Homo sapiens: one gene and its partner. The protein of the gene in region 1 purifies or fractionates together with the protein of each later gene. This does not show direct contact. Each region holds a gene or a part of one and is shown on either strand. Other genes may lie near its edges.

The links. Proteins that work in one complex are often made in the same cells at the same time.
Region 2: the proteins of TDRKH (region 1) and PLD6 purify together in Homo sapiens (affinity purification with mass spectrometry; 2 studies listed by BioGRID and IntAct, with this or other methods). This does not show direct contact.

Annotation. Positions count from the first base shown.
Region 1 is NC_000001.11:151,787,484-151,795,208, forward strand, and holds the start of TDRKH (tudor and KH domain-containing protein), read right to left. Parts: upstream 3,018-7,725; 5' UTR 2,897-3,017; intron 1-2,896. UniProt on the Homo sapiens protein: Participates in the primary piRNA biogenesis pathway and is required during spermatogenesis to repress transposable elements and prevent their mobilization, which is essential for the germline integrity.
Region 2 is NC_000017.11:17,203,316-17,210,402, forward strand, and holds the start of PLD6 (mitochondrial cardiolipin hydrolase), read right to left. Parts: upstream 3,019-7,087; 5' UTR 2,972-3,018; coding exon 2,545-2,971; intron 1-2,544. UniProt on the Homo sapiens protein: Presents phospholipase and nuclease activities, depending on the different physiological conditions. Interaction with Mitoguardin (MIGA1 or MIGA2) affects the dimer conformation, facilitating the lipase activity over the nuclease activity.

The DNA.
Region 1 (7,725 bases):
TGGGATTACAGGCGTGAGCCACTGCGCCTGGCTTAGGTATTTTCTTATATGACCACTAAAGTGCAAAGCTTGTTTCCATTATTAATGCATCTTGGTTAAATAGTGCTAGCTCTTTCTTGTGTGCTGAGCACGTTGGGGACAGAAGGAGGAAGAAGAATTTCTACTTGGAAATATTCATAGTCTAGGAAACATAAACACCAAAACAGGCTGGGCACAGTGGCTCATGCCTGTTAATCCCAGCACTTTGAGAGGCTAAGGTAGGAGGACTGCTTGAGACCAAGTATTCAAGACTAGCCTGGGCAACATAGTGAGACTCTGTTTCTACAAAAAAAAAAAAAAAAAAAAAAAAAAAAAAATTAGCTAGGCGTGGTGTTGCACACCTGTAGTTCCAGCTACTCAGGAGGCCGAGGTGGGAGATGGCTTGAGCCCAGGAGGTGGAAGCTGCAGTAAACTGATGACACCACTGCACTCCACCCTGGGCAACAGAGCGAGAATTTGTCTCAAGGGGTTTAAAAAAAAAAAGTATAGGGCAAGATGTGTGTAGGTTATATACAAATAATATGCATCTTATACAAGGGACATGAGCATCTATGGATTTGGGTTCTGCAGGGTTCCTGGAACCAATCCCCTGCAAATAACGAAGGGAGGGACAACTGTATAAATTCTTGGTCAATGCGACAGTTGAAAGTAGCTAGAACCTTAAGGTTTATTTCTTAGATGGTGTATAGTTGAAAATCATCTCATTAAAATACAACTCACTTTTCTTCCGCAAACCTATACTACATGAATGAACTGCACTAAATGGACATTTATTCAAGCCAATAAATATCGAATTCTGATGTGTGCTTGACCCTCGGGACACAACAGTCAAGATAGATTTGGCAGCTGCCTTCATGGAGTTTCCTGTCTGGCAAGGAAGATCTTGACAGGCAGGAGTCTTTAGGTCTTAAGGGCTTTGGGAAACTGAAATCTAGCCCTGTGAACAAGAATAAACTGGATCTGTATTTTCATGCTGTCTGCTTTTAAAAACTGGCCATAATTGATGCTTATGGGGCATAGAAATCACAAGATTTTATAACTAGAAGGGACTACAGAACTTATTTGATTCCATTAATAACGTTGCAATTTGGGAAACTGCGGCTAAGGGATAGAAAAGGATTGATCTAAGATCACACAGCTCATTAGTCATTTCTACACAATACAGTGTGCAATAGAAATAAGTCTGTTTTGATGGCCAGTCATAATCACACCTCTTTACAGAGGCCCAAAGGACTAGCAGCACTTTTGTTTTCCAGTTCTGACACTATCAAGATCAAGTGCAGAGGGGTCTCTGCAGCCAAGGCCCCTCAATCTCGACCCCCTACACTGGGTTGAATTACATTGCTATGGGTTTCCACAGAATCCCCAATATCCCTTGATAACACATGCCATGCTTGTCATTCTTGATTAACATCTGTGTCCGTGGTGAGGAGAATGAATTGAAGGCAGCAACCGTGGCTGCAGGAGACCAATCAGGGCCTAGTCCAGGTGTCAATGATGGAGATGGAGAACAGATGAATTGGAGAGTTTGTTGTTGTTTATTTAGAGACAGAGCCTTGGTCTGTCACCCAGGATGGAATGCAGTGAATGATAATAGCTCACTGCAGCCTTGAACTCCCGCAGTCGTCCGGCGTAGCTGAGATTATAGGTGCGGTTTTGGCCGACTTCTATTTGAAGCAAAAGGTAAATTTCACTAACTCCTCTTCAAACATTACAAATGAATTTGTGCTAATTGAGTTATCAGCTGATGTCTCAAAAAATGAGACTCTACTTGATCTGTCACTATGGTTTTGTTCACAATTTTCATATCCTTTCAGCTATAAGTTTCTCTTAAAGAGAAATGGAAAATAATATAATGTAAACGGGGATAACTGCATAGTACTGACTGCTAGCTTGTGTTTGATTTTATTACTTAAAAATTGAATGGGAAGGAGGAAAATACTAGAACTTAAGACCACAGTTTCTAGGGGAAGCTAAGAAGAGAAGATGAGGATCATTGTTCAGTGAGGAATGTGGTTAGATAATGGTTTTCAGTGAAAGCTAACTTTGAAATTTCCTGACATTTGTATTGAACAATTGCCAAAAACTATCTGATATGCATCGCTAAGGCTTACTTTATCATTTAAAATGACAGGAGTCAAATAGGATGTGATGAGAAGTCAAATCACATTGTTAGCTCCATGAAAGCATAGATAACTCATTCCAGTATCTCCTAATAACCAGAACCTACAAAGAACCTACAACATGGTGACATGCTTGAATCGAAGCAGCTCAATGTTCTCATCCTTGGTACGTTTATTTTAAATTCACGAGAAAAAAAAAAGTGTCAACCCCTTTCTCTCAAAACAAGGAAAGGGTCTAAAAGTCAGTCTTTGAAATAGGGGTCTCCAGCCAACCCCCACGATGATACCTGGATTAAGGAATGAGGGATACTGGAAAAACAAAAACCCCAATGTATTATTCTGACGACTGTAAACAGCCATCCTATTAGCGATAACTAAAGAAAAAGCTGGGGAAAGTTAAAGGCAAAGTGATATACGGATGGCAGCTCTCAGTCTCAAAAAGGCCCAGTGGAAGAGTCTGAACTGACTCAGGGCAAACACAAACGCTCCCGCACCGGGTCCGTTGTGGCGTAAGCGGGTGACTGGAGCATCTTCCTCAGATACAGTTACGAGTTCCCAGTGGGTCAAGTTGCCCCCGAGCGGCGTCTCACAGCCCAGGGCTCTGACTCCCCCGCTGCGCCCCACATCCTTCCCTCGCCCCGGGGCACGCCAGACCCCTCCCTTCCCTCGCTCCCGCATTTCCGTCTCCTAGTGGCCAGGGCTGCCCATGACCCTGTCTTTCCCACTCCCCAAACCTTCGGTCTCCATCCTCGCCTTTACCGCTGCTCCAGTCAGCCGTCGAGTGCGCCGCCTCGCGCCTCACCCCAGCTGCAGCCACCAGCGCCGCCGCCTCCCACTCACACCACCACAGTGAGCCCCGCCGGCGGCGCTTCAGCCGCCACTTCCCCGCCCCCGCAGCCCGACAGCACCAATCAACACCCTGCTCGCAGTCCGACCAATCGCCTTCTCCCGTCACAACCAATCCTTCCGCGGGCTGCCCCTGAGCGACGTGGCTGCTGCTAGCCGCTGCCCAATTACCCGGATGGAATCCAAAGCAGGCCCACCCTGTCAGCCAATAAGATCCAGGAAAAGCAGATGTTGTTAACTGAGACCGCACCTGCTGAGAATTAAACAGCCAATTACAAGCTTCCCGGCGTCCTCGCAGACCACCTCTAGGCCAATTACCGAGGAGTTTTCTATCTTCTAACCCTTGGAGGAAAATCTGCGCTCCAGCAGCTGGGACCGAGGCATGAGAGCGTTGAATCATGAGTGGCACCGTTCGCAAAAATTGGTGTCTTTGTACAAAGACAGTGCCACAACACAACTCAGTGACCATCGGGAGAGCAGCCTCATGATGGGCGATGCTCCATCAGTTTTCTCTTGCGATCTTTTGCATAGATCGGTCCCGCCCCGCATATGGCGATGAGGACTCAAGAGACACGGAAAACGTTTTCTTTCTGGAAAACATGAAATAGGCTTTGTAGATGGACAGGAAGTCAAGGGACAAGCGGTGCGCCGCAGAGAGCGAGGACCCACTCTTCTATTCCTTTGCGGAGGCACGGACACACGGTGTGGCCCGAAACAGCGGCAGGAGAGTGAGACCCGGGCTCCGACCGCGGTGGTAAGGGGGCGGCGGGCCATAGGGGCGCCAGGGGCCCACCCTTCCCTGGGGATTCGAGGAAACGGGTCGAGGCGACAGCGTGAAGGCCTACGCCGGGGGAGGGGGTGGTGGCGGGGGGCGTTTCTGTGGGGGCGAGGAAGGGAGCGGGTCTCCGCAGGCGGAAGTTTGCTTTGGAAGATTTTATTCCAGACGCTGTCCTGGTCCCTGGACGGTTAGGAACGGTTGGGTCCTGCTACTGCCTCCGTGGGGCAGGGAGCCTCGCGAGACCAGCACTGCGCCCTACTCGGTCCACCCTGTCCCCGCTCCGCGCTAGGGGCTCACCCTGGGAACAGGGGTCGGGCGATCCTGGTCATTGGGGGATCTTCCGCACTAGCTTCCATCACAATACCTGGCAGGTGATGAGCAATAAATATTTGCTGAAAGAACGCAAGGTTGTATCTTTTGTCAATTAGGCAGATGCCTTTGGGCCTCAGGTTTTGCTTTCTATTAATATAAAAATGTGTATGCGTTTTGAATAAGTAATACATTTACATTCTACAAAATTCAGAAGAAACAAGGTTATTATAGTGAATAAATTTTCCTTCCTTCAAGGCAACTAGGGTTACCAGTTTCTTGTGAAAAATTTCACAAGATATTCTATAGTTAACGTGTGTATATGTGTAATATATAAAGTGTATATATATATACACACACATATATTTTTTTAACCCAGTTGATAACATACATACTATTTTGCAACTTTCTTTGATACAGTCTGGAAATGTTTCCGTAGCAGCATATACGTATCTGCCTCATAGTGATAGTTTCATAGTATGCCTGAGGGATATATGAAGATATATTTAACCAGTCCTTTAACATTTGATTGATATGCAAGGATACTTCATTTCCCTCTTGCATATGTGTATGATAAATACTTAGAAATGCAAGTGCCAAGTTAAAGAAATGTGTGCATTGTTTTTTCATTTGGATAGATAAAATTTTGTAAATTCCCTTCCTCCCACAAAGATTTTTATAATTTTAATCCCACCAGCAATTTTTGAAAATGATTTTAGTTAGTATTACCAAATTGCCTTCCCTGGAAATTTTACCAATTTTGTCTCCTGTCAGCAATGTATGAAAAGAACCTGTTTGATAGCACACTGGTGCTGTTAAACTTCCTGATTTTTGACAATCTGATAGTGTAAATGCTATCTCATTGCAAGATAAAATTTCATTGCTCTTATAAGTAAAGTTGAGCATCTTTTAATATATTTAAATGGCAATTTTTTTGTAAATTCTCTGTTTTTATATTCTGTTCATATTTTTATTGGTTATAGGGTCATTTCTTAATACTTGCTGTTTGTATATAAGTTAAAAGTATTTTCCCCGGCCAGGTGTGGTGGGTCACGCCTGTAATCCCAGCACTTTGGGAGGCTGAGGCAGGCTAATCACCTGAGGTCAGGAGTTCAAGACCAGCCTGGCCAACATGCTGAAACCCCGTCTTTATTAAAAATACAAAAATTAGCCGGTTATGGTGGCAAGCGCTTGTAATCCCAGCTACTTGGGAGACTGAGGCAGGAGAATCACTTGAACTGGGGAAGCGGTGGTTGCAGTGAGCCGAGATTGCCACTGCACTCCAGCCTGGGCAACAGAGCGAGACCCCATCTCCAAAAAAAAAAAAAAAAAGTATGTCCCTTTTCCCAGTTTGTTCTATGTATATTGTTTATACATATAACAAGTATTTTCCCTTTTCCAAGTTTGTTCTATGTATATTGCATATTTTGAGGCTGGTCTCCAACTCCTGACCTCAGGTGATCAGCCTGCCTCAGCCTCCCAAAGTGCTAGGATTACAGGCCTGAGCCATTGCCCTCAGCCTGTTTATGGTTATTCTTTGCAAATGTTAAAAATTTTTATGTAATTGAATTTATCAATATTTTCTTTGATAATTTCTGGGTTTCTTTCTTTCTTTTTTTGAGGCAGAGTCTCATTCTGTCGCCCAGGCTGGAGTGCAGTGGCATGATCTTGGCCCACTGTAACCTCTGCTTCCCAGGTTGAAGAGATTCTCGTGCCTCAGCCTCCTGAGTAGTTGGGATTACAGGCATGTACCACCATACCTGGGTAATTTTTGTATTTTTTAGTAGACTCGGAGTAGTTTTGCCATGTTGGCCAGACTGGTCTCAAACTCCTGGCCTCAAGTGATCCACCCGCCTTAGCCTCCCAAAGTATTGGTATTACAGGCGTGAGCCACTGTGCCTGGCCAACTTCTGTGTTTCATATAATTTTTAGTAAAGTCTCCCACTATTTAAGATTATTCTTAAAGCTCCTATGTTTTTTTAAAAAGTACTTTGATAGTGTCTTTGTATATGTAAATATTTGATTCATCTGGAATTTATTTTGGTGTAAAGGTGTGAGATAGAGATCCAATTTTGTTTTGTTTTATTCAAATCCTTCTTATTGAATAACCCATGTTTTCTCCATTGTTTTTGAATGCTACCTTTATAATACCAAATTGCCATATGTATTTGGGTCTATTTCTGGATTTTTTTCATTTTGTTCCATTGATCATTAATTTTTTTTTTTTTTTTTTTAGACGGAGTCTCACTCTGTCACCCAGGCTGGAGTGCAGTGGCACGATCTCGGCTCACTGGAACCTCCAACTCCCTGGTTCAAGCGATTCTCCTGCCTCAGCCTCCCGAATAGCTGGGACTACAGGTGCCCACCACCACACCTGGCTAATTTTTTGTATTTTTAGTAGAGACGGGGTTTCACCGTGTTAGCCAGGATGGTCTCGGTCTCCTGACCTGGTGATCCGCCCGCCTCGGCCTCCCAAAGTGCTGGGATTACAGGCATGAGCCACTGCGCCCGGCCTAAAAATTTTTTAAATTGTATACATTATGGTTTTTTTTTTTACCACAATTTAAAAAATTAATTTATAATATACATGCAGAAAAATGCACAAATGACAAGTATATATCTTGATGAATTTTCACAAATGGAATACATTTGTGTAACCAGCAGCAGATCAAGAAACAGAACATTGCTAGTGCCCCAGAAGCCACTTGTGTGTTCCCTCTCAGTCACTGCTCTTCTCAAGGACAACCACTCTTCTGACTCCTGATACCATAAACTAATTTTGCCTGTTCTTGCTTTTTATATAAAGAGAATCACAGAGTATGTACTCTTTTGTGTCTGGCTTCCTTTGTTCAAATTATTTCTGTGAGATTCAGCCATATTGTGTATAGTTTTAGTCCCTTCATTCTGACTACTGTGTGGTATAATATTGTGAGGCTATATTGAACCATAATTTACTCTTCTATTCTGTTACTGTTATTTTGGCTGGAATCACATATTTTTAGATTATCTAAAGGAGAATGTATGATAAGAATCTTCCTATCTTCCTATACATTCAAGTCATTGGTACCCCATCAGTAGAATTTTAGTTTTCATTATGTAGAATTTACATACTTCTTATTAAAATTATTCCTAGGTATTGAGTGCCTTGATTGCTATAGCTATTTTTACTTTAAAAAAAGTAAAATGGTAGTTCAAATCCAAGGAAGAATGTGTCCAGTGTTGCTATAAAAATACAGACCTACTTTATGGGTCCATCTTCTTCTAGCTCCAGTGAAGGTGGGATGGGCAAAAAAGAGGAAATGAAGTCCAAAAAGGGGGTTACACTTTATAGTTAAACCACAAGAGGAATTTATTTCTTTTTTAAGACAGAGTCTTGCTCTGTTGCCCAGGCTTGGGGCAATGGCATGATCTCTACTCACTGCAACCTCCACCTCCCGGGCTCAAGCGATCCTCCTGCCTCAGCCTCCCAAGTAGCTGAGACTACAGACATGCACCACCACACCCGGCTAATTTTTGTCTTTTTAGCAGAGATGGGGTTTCACCATGTTGCCCAGGCTGGTCTCCAGCTCCTGGGCTCAAGGCATCCACCTGCCTTAGCCTCCCAAAGTGCTGGGATTACAGGAGTGAGTC
Region 2 (7,087 bases), on another chromosome or scaffold:
TGGGGGACTGGGCAGGCCGTGGTCTGGGTGAGGCCACACCTCCGAGTCTATGCCAGCCAGTATGTCCCTTCGGGGTTACTGCTTGCTGCCAAGGCTGTCACTAACCCAGTCAGAGGTGACCAGGGCAAAGACAGCGTGTGAGCCTTCAGGTTCTGACTCTTCCACAGCTAAGGCTGAGAGCGTGCCCACTCTGCCCAGAGAGGCCCCGGCGTCTGAGAGCAGAGCCCAATTTGCTGGCACAACCTCGGCCACCAAGGCAGGAAGGGCCCTAACTAACAACGCACAAATGAATTCTCCTCTTCCGCACCCCCCTGCTTCCTTCACCAAAGAACCAGGCATCCCGGCCTCTGCTCTTCCCAGCTTTCAAACTCCTCTTGGGAAGGGCCTGTGTCTGTCTCCCCTGGAATAACACTGCCTCACTCACGACCTGCTTAAGGAATGAGGCCGTCAGAAATGGGGCTTAAAAGAAGTTTTAAACAGGCTGCCATGGAACACAGTTGCCAGATTTTCCGAATCAAAATACAGAACATCCAAGTTAAATGGAATTTCAGATAAAGAGTAATCTTTGAAGGGAAGTGTGTCCCATGGAGTACTGGGAACATACCCTAAAAATCACTCCCTGTGCATGGAACTCATATTTAATTGTGCCCCCTAAATTGGGCCTGGCAGGATGAAGACGTGGTGGCTTCCTTACCTCGAGGAGCCAGCCCTTCTTCTCACACTCTGGCCACTCCTCTGGCACGTCCTGTCGGCACAGCCCTCCAAACACATTCCTCCACACGGTGGGCAATGTAAAACCCCACCATCGCCCACACCTCCTGCCTCCGCTGGGATCCACTGCCCACCTCCCCGTCCCCTCCCCGCGGCCTGCCACCTCTGGCCACAGGGGACTTCCTGCCCTTCCTCAAAAGGAAGTCAGTCTGTGACCCAGGGCGACTGTGCTGCTGCCCCTTCCAGCCGCATGCCTCTCCCTCCGAACAGTCCACTGGTGTCAGCAAGGTCCCTGCCCTGAGTGTCACTGCCCCTGGGCAGCTGACCTGGCCCACGCCACTTCCTCCCACACCACTGCCTCCTTACCCTGCTTTATGAAGTTTTCTTGGCCCTTCTCAGTGCCCTAAATGAAATATTCATGACTTAGTTGGCATCTCCGTGGCAACCTGGCCTTGTGCCCTTGTGCCCTAGGATGTTCCAGCTCCTCACAAATACTGGCACAGAGGGGACATTCCTTGAACAGTGAATGCCACTGGACAGCCTCGAAGTCAGCGAGGATGCTGGGAGGCCATCCCAGAGGGGATCCGATGGGACCTTGGTCTAGGGGCCCTTGAAGGGTCTTCACCAACCTCAGCTTCTACGACTGTAAAAGCAACTCAAACAGAACTGTACTGTGCATGCCTGGAGGTCCCCAAACCTCCCGTTAAAATGACCAACACATGGGAGGACAGCTCTTGTGGCTGCCCCAAAGAGAAGGAGACATCCTCAATATGAAAACCACGTGCCCCACTCTGCTCCCACATGGCGTGCAACATGCCCCACACCACCCAGAGCAGGGAGGGACCCTGGCTGACTCTGGAGAGGCTGCTCTGAGGCCCAAGTCAACAAGAGGCTATGGCTGTGCAGAAGGAACAGCGCGGCGGTGACCACTGCCCAGCCTGGACAATTCCCAGGGCTCCACACATCTCTCGGTCACTGCGACCACCAGTATTATCAGATCCAACCGTTGCACGTGCAGGCGTGACTTTCTGGGTGCCTGAGTGATGGAGACAGAGACAGGCCCAAGAGTCTGTGAGTGCAGATACACAAAAGGCAACAGCAGGCTGGGCCGCCGAACTGGGCCAGGATGGACTGAGAATCCTCAGGTGGGACAAGGATCCCAATTATTCACATTTCCTGGTCCCTTCTGTCCCCACCCCATGAGAGAGGCGCCCCCGCCAGAAATATGTGTTCCCCTCCTTTTGCAGCTGGGAAAACAACCGAATGTCCTGGCGCTGCTTTCTAGAACATGTTCAGGTCTCCCAGAGCCCAGTGGCCTGAGATTCACTGGGCAGCAGGTGGCCGCCTCTCCCCAGAGCCCTTCAGTCTGGAAGTCCAAGCACAACCCTGGCGTCCAGCTCCCCTGCCACCAGGATCCAGGTTACCAGAGGCCGTCCGGGGATCTCCGGCAGCGTAGGAGGGCGGGCCCGGGCTGCAGCAGTCACGAAAACTCCGCCGGCGGCGCCCGAGGAGTTGCTAGGGGAATCTGCTCCGCCTCTAACCCGGCACACGCAGGCCCACCTGCTTCCAGCATGCCGGGACAGTTCACTGAGAGAACCGCCCCCACCGCGGAGGCACCGAGGGTCCGGCTCGCTTATGCCCACGCAGCCGGCTAGACCTTCTGTGGGGGCTCTGCTTTCTCCGCGTTACACCACCCCGACCCCACAAGGCCACGAGGAAAGTAAATGAGGCCTCAGCCCGTCCCCAGACCCCCTCCCCTAAGTGTCCACCTTTGCGCCTAGGACCCCGCGTGGGCCAAGCCGGCCTTCTCCGCTTGGACCCCGCCGGGCCTACCTGCCTTGCGCAGCAGACCGATTTGCGAGCCGTTGAGGGCCATGTAGTCGCAGTCGGTGACGACCCGCACTCGCACCCCACGCTGGTGCAGCAACTGCACGGCGCGGCCCAGCTGCGGGCTGGAGAAGGCGAACAGGCAGAGATCCAGGCTGGCGCGGGCGGCCAGCAGGGCACGCAGCAGGCGGCTTAGCGCGCTCTCGCCGTGGGGCAGGCCGCACGGGCAGCCCTCGGGGAGCTCGGCCAGCTCCGCGCCCGGAGCCCGCAGCAGGGCCTCGGTACAGGTCACCTGAGACGGGAAGAACAGCGCCTCGCGCCGCGGCCGCCGCCGCCTGGACCGCAGCCAGCGCAGCACCCAAGGCAGCGCCTCCAGAGTCAGAGCCAGGCCCACAGCCGCCGCGGCCGCCACCTGCCAACTCAACCGTCCCATGCCGCCGCTAATCCGGGACCCACAGCCACGCCGCCGCAGCGGAGTCTGCGCGCCCCCAGCCCTAGACCGCCAGGCCACGCCCCCGTCACGCGCCGCCAGCGGCCATGTGCCAGGCCACGCCCAGCCCCCCATGGCCACGCGCCAGGCCACGCCCTATCACGTCCTGCCAATTGCCACGCACCAGGCCACGCCCCCGTCACGCAGCGCCAACGGCCACGTGCCAGGCCACGTGCCAGGCCACGCCCAGCACCCATGGCCACACGCCAGGCCACGCCCCCGTCACGCCCCACCAACGGCCACGTGCAAGGTCACGCCCTCAGCCCCCGAGGGCCACGCGCTAGGCCGCGCCATGCCCCCACAACTGTCACGCACCAAGCTGAACCCACGCCTCCCATCAGCCCGCCCCCAACCCTCAACAGGTGACCACGCCTCCCTCCACGCGCCAGGCCACGCCCCCTGCCACAGACACCCTCCACCCCCCAACGCCAGGCTGTGCCCCCCATTTTCCTTCCAGCCAGGCGCTCGGCCACGCCCTCCAGGTTCCACCTCCCACCACGTGCCAAGCCACGTCCCCAAGCCCGCGCCACCAGGCAGCACCTGCACACCCGCGGGCCACGGGCCCTAGCACACCCGTCACCTGCCCAGGCCAGAGACCGCTCTCCGCGCTAGAAGCCACAGCAACCCCGGCTTTCCTCGCATGGAGCACAGCAGAGCTGCTCTGGAAATGTGGGGTCACACCTTCACTGTCTTCTCGGGAGCAGCTAGGCTGGGCTGGGGAATGACCTGGGAACACAGATAATCAGGGAATCAACACAGCTGGAGGCAGCATTGGAACCCAGCATACTGGAGGCGGTGTCGGCCCAGAGGTTTTTTCCTAGCCCAAGAGGTTTTTTCCAGCCGGCGTTGTTGGAAGGCCTGCCCTGCTTTAAGCATAAACAGAGGAAGAGACTAAGGCAGCCGAGGGCACTGGGCCGGGGGCATAGGGAAACGGGGCAATGTGGTGGTCTGGGCTGGATCCTGGAACCGAAAGAAGACATTCACGGAAAAACTGGTGAGAGCCAAATAAAGTCTGGAGCTTAATCGCATTGTACCAATGTCAGTTTCTTAGCTTTGACAAATGTATGAAAGGAATGTAAAAGGTTAACAAAGGAAGCTGCGTGGGGGTAAATGGATCTCTCTGTTCTATATTCGAAACTTTTCTGTAAAGCAAATTATTCTAAATTAAAAGTTTATTAAAATATTAAACTTGCACCTTCCATATGATCCAGCTATCCCACTCCTAGGAGAAAGGGCGGGATCCATTAACACAAGCACGTGTCCTGGCAGGCGTATGTGCCTAGAACAACCCAAAAAGGCGTCAGCAGGTAAACAGGTAAATAAGCTTTTGTATATCTGTACAAGGGAATGCTATTTAGCAATAAAATAGAATGAAGTGGCCTGGCACGGTGGTTCATGCCTGTTATCCCAGAACTTTGGGAGGCTGAGGCAGGAGGACAGCTTGAGTTCGGGAATTCGAAACCAGCTTGGCCAACATGGTGAAACACTGTCTCTACCAAAAAATACAAAAATTAGCTGAGTGCGCTGACGTGCCTGTGATCCCAGCTACTCGGGAGGCTGAGGTGGGAGAATCGCTTGAGCTCTGGAGACTAAGGTTGCAGTGAGCCAAGATCATGCCATTGCACTCCAGCCTGGGTGACACAGCAAGACCCTATCCCCCCCCCACCAAAAAAAAAAAAAAACAGTACTCACATGTGCTACGACGTGGATGAATTTCATTAATATTGAGTGGGAAAAGCCAGACAAAAAGAGTACATACTGTATGATTCCATTTACATAAAATTCTAGAAAATGCAAACTAGATTGAGGGAAAGCAGACCAGTGTAGCCTGGAGGCCAACAAAGCCACAAGGAAGTGGAGTGATGGATGTGTGCTTATCGGGTTGACTGTGGTGGTTTCACAGGTATATACATATGTCAAATTGTATGGTGTAAATAACTAAAAATGTATGTCAGTGATTATGTCAATAAAATTCTTTTTTTTTTTTTTAAGACGGAGCCTCGTTCTTTCGCCCAGGCTGGTGTGCAGTGGTGCGATCTCGGCTCACTGCAACCTCTGCCTCCGGGGTTCAAGTGAGTCTCTGCGTCAGCCTCCCGAGCAGCTGGGATTACAGGCGCCCACCACCACACCCGGCTAATTTTTGTATTTTTAGTAGAGATGGGGTTTCACCATCTTGGCCGTGCTGGTCTCGAACTCCTGACCTCGTGATCCACCTGCCTCGGCCTCCCAAAGTGCTGGGATTACAGGCGTGAGCCACCGCACCCGGCCTTCTTTTTTTTTTTTTTGAGATGAAGTCTCGCTCTGTCGCCCAGTCTGGAGTGCAGTGGCACGATCTCGGCTCACTGCAACCTTCACCTCCTGGGTTCAAGCAATTCTCCTGCCTCAGCCTCCCAAGTAGCTGGGACTACAAATGCACACCACCACATCGGCTAAATTTTTGTTTTTGTATTTTTAGTAGAGACGGGGTTTCATCGTGTTAGCTAGGATGGTCTCGATCGCCTGACCTCGTGATCAGCCTGCCTCGGCCTCCCAAAGTGCTGGAATTACAGGTGTGAGCCACCGTGCCTGGCGAATAAAATTCTTAACAAAGAAAAAGAACACTTGAGTTTAGTGCTGGCTCCCAGGCTTCCTAGCTGCATGGTCTAGGGCAAATTGATTCATCTCTTCTGAGCTTCACTTTCCTCATCTAAAACGATAATGAGAGGAGGGACTTGGAGTTGTGGAGGTATAAAGAAGGACTCAAATCCCTCCAGAGAGGGATAAACAAAAATAAAACTGGGGGAAAACAGTTTTCAAAAACAGCCACTTCAGGGCTGGAAATCTACCAAAGGCAGACAACAAAATGAGAAGCTTTATTTGATTTTTATTTATTTTTTGTCTTCCAGTTTCTATTTTTAACTTTGTCGGTATATAGTAGGTATATATATTTATCGGGTACATGAGATATTTTGGTACAGACATGCAATTTGTAATAATCACATCAGGGTAAACAGGATATCCATCACCTTAAGCATTTATCCTCTTTTGTGTTACAACATTTAGTTATTAGTTTATTTATTTATTTATTTATTTGAGACGGAGTCTTGCTCTGTTGCCCAGGCTGGAGTGCAGTGGTGCGATCTCAGCTCACTTTGCAAGCTCTGCCTCCCAGGTTCACGCCATTCTCCTGCCTCAGCCTCCCAAGTAGCTGGGACTACAGGTGCCCGCCACCACGCCCAGCTAATTTTTCGTATTTTTAGTAGAGATGGGGTTTCACTATGTTAGCCAGGATGGTCTCGATCTCCTGACCTCACTATCTGCCCTCCTCGGCCTCCCAAAGTGCTGGGATTACAGGCGTGAGCCACCGTGCCCGGCCTAGTTTTTTATTCATTTATTTTTCAGATGGAGTCTTGCTCTGTCAGCAGTGACGTGATCTTGGCTCACGGCAACCTCCGTCTCCCAGATTCAAGCAATTCTCCTGCCTCAGCCTCCAGAGTAGCTGGGATTACAGGCACCCACCACCACGCCCGGCTAATTTTTGTATGTTTAGTGGAGACGGGGTTTCACCATGTTGGCCAGGCTGGTCTCGAACACCTCACATCAGGTGATCCGCCCACCTTGGCCTCCCAAAGTGCTGGGATTACAGGTGTGAGCCACCGTGCCTGGCCGTTTGTGTTTATTTTTTATTTTTTGAGACAGAGTCTCGCTTTGCTGCCCAGACAGGAGTGCCATGGGGCCATCTCAGCTCACTGCAACCTCCACCTCCCTGGTTCAAGCGATTCTCCTGCCTCAGCCTCCTGAGCAGCTGGGATTACAGGTGCCTGACACCACGCCTAGCTAATTTTTGTACTTTTAGTAGAGATGGGAGTTCACCATGTTGGCCAGGCTGGTCTCGAACACCTGACCTCAGGTGATCCGCCCACCTTGGCCTCCCAAAGTGCTGGGATTACAGGTGTGAGCCACAGTGCCTGGCTATAATAACCATTTTAATATGTGTGTGTATGTCATTAACATCATGTCGTATACCTTAAATATATACAATTTATTTTTTAAAAGCTTATACAAACTATATTATCAGAT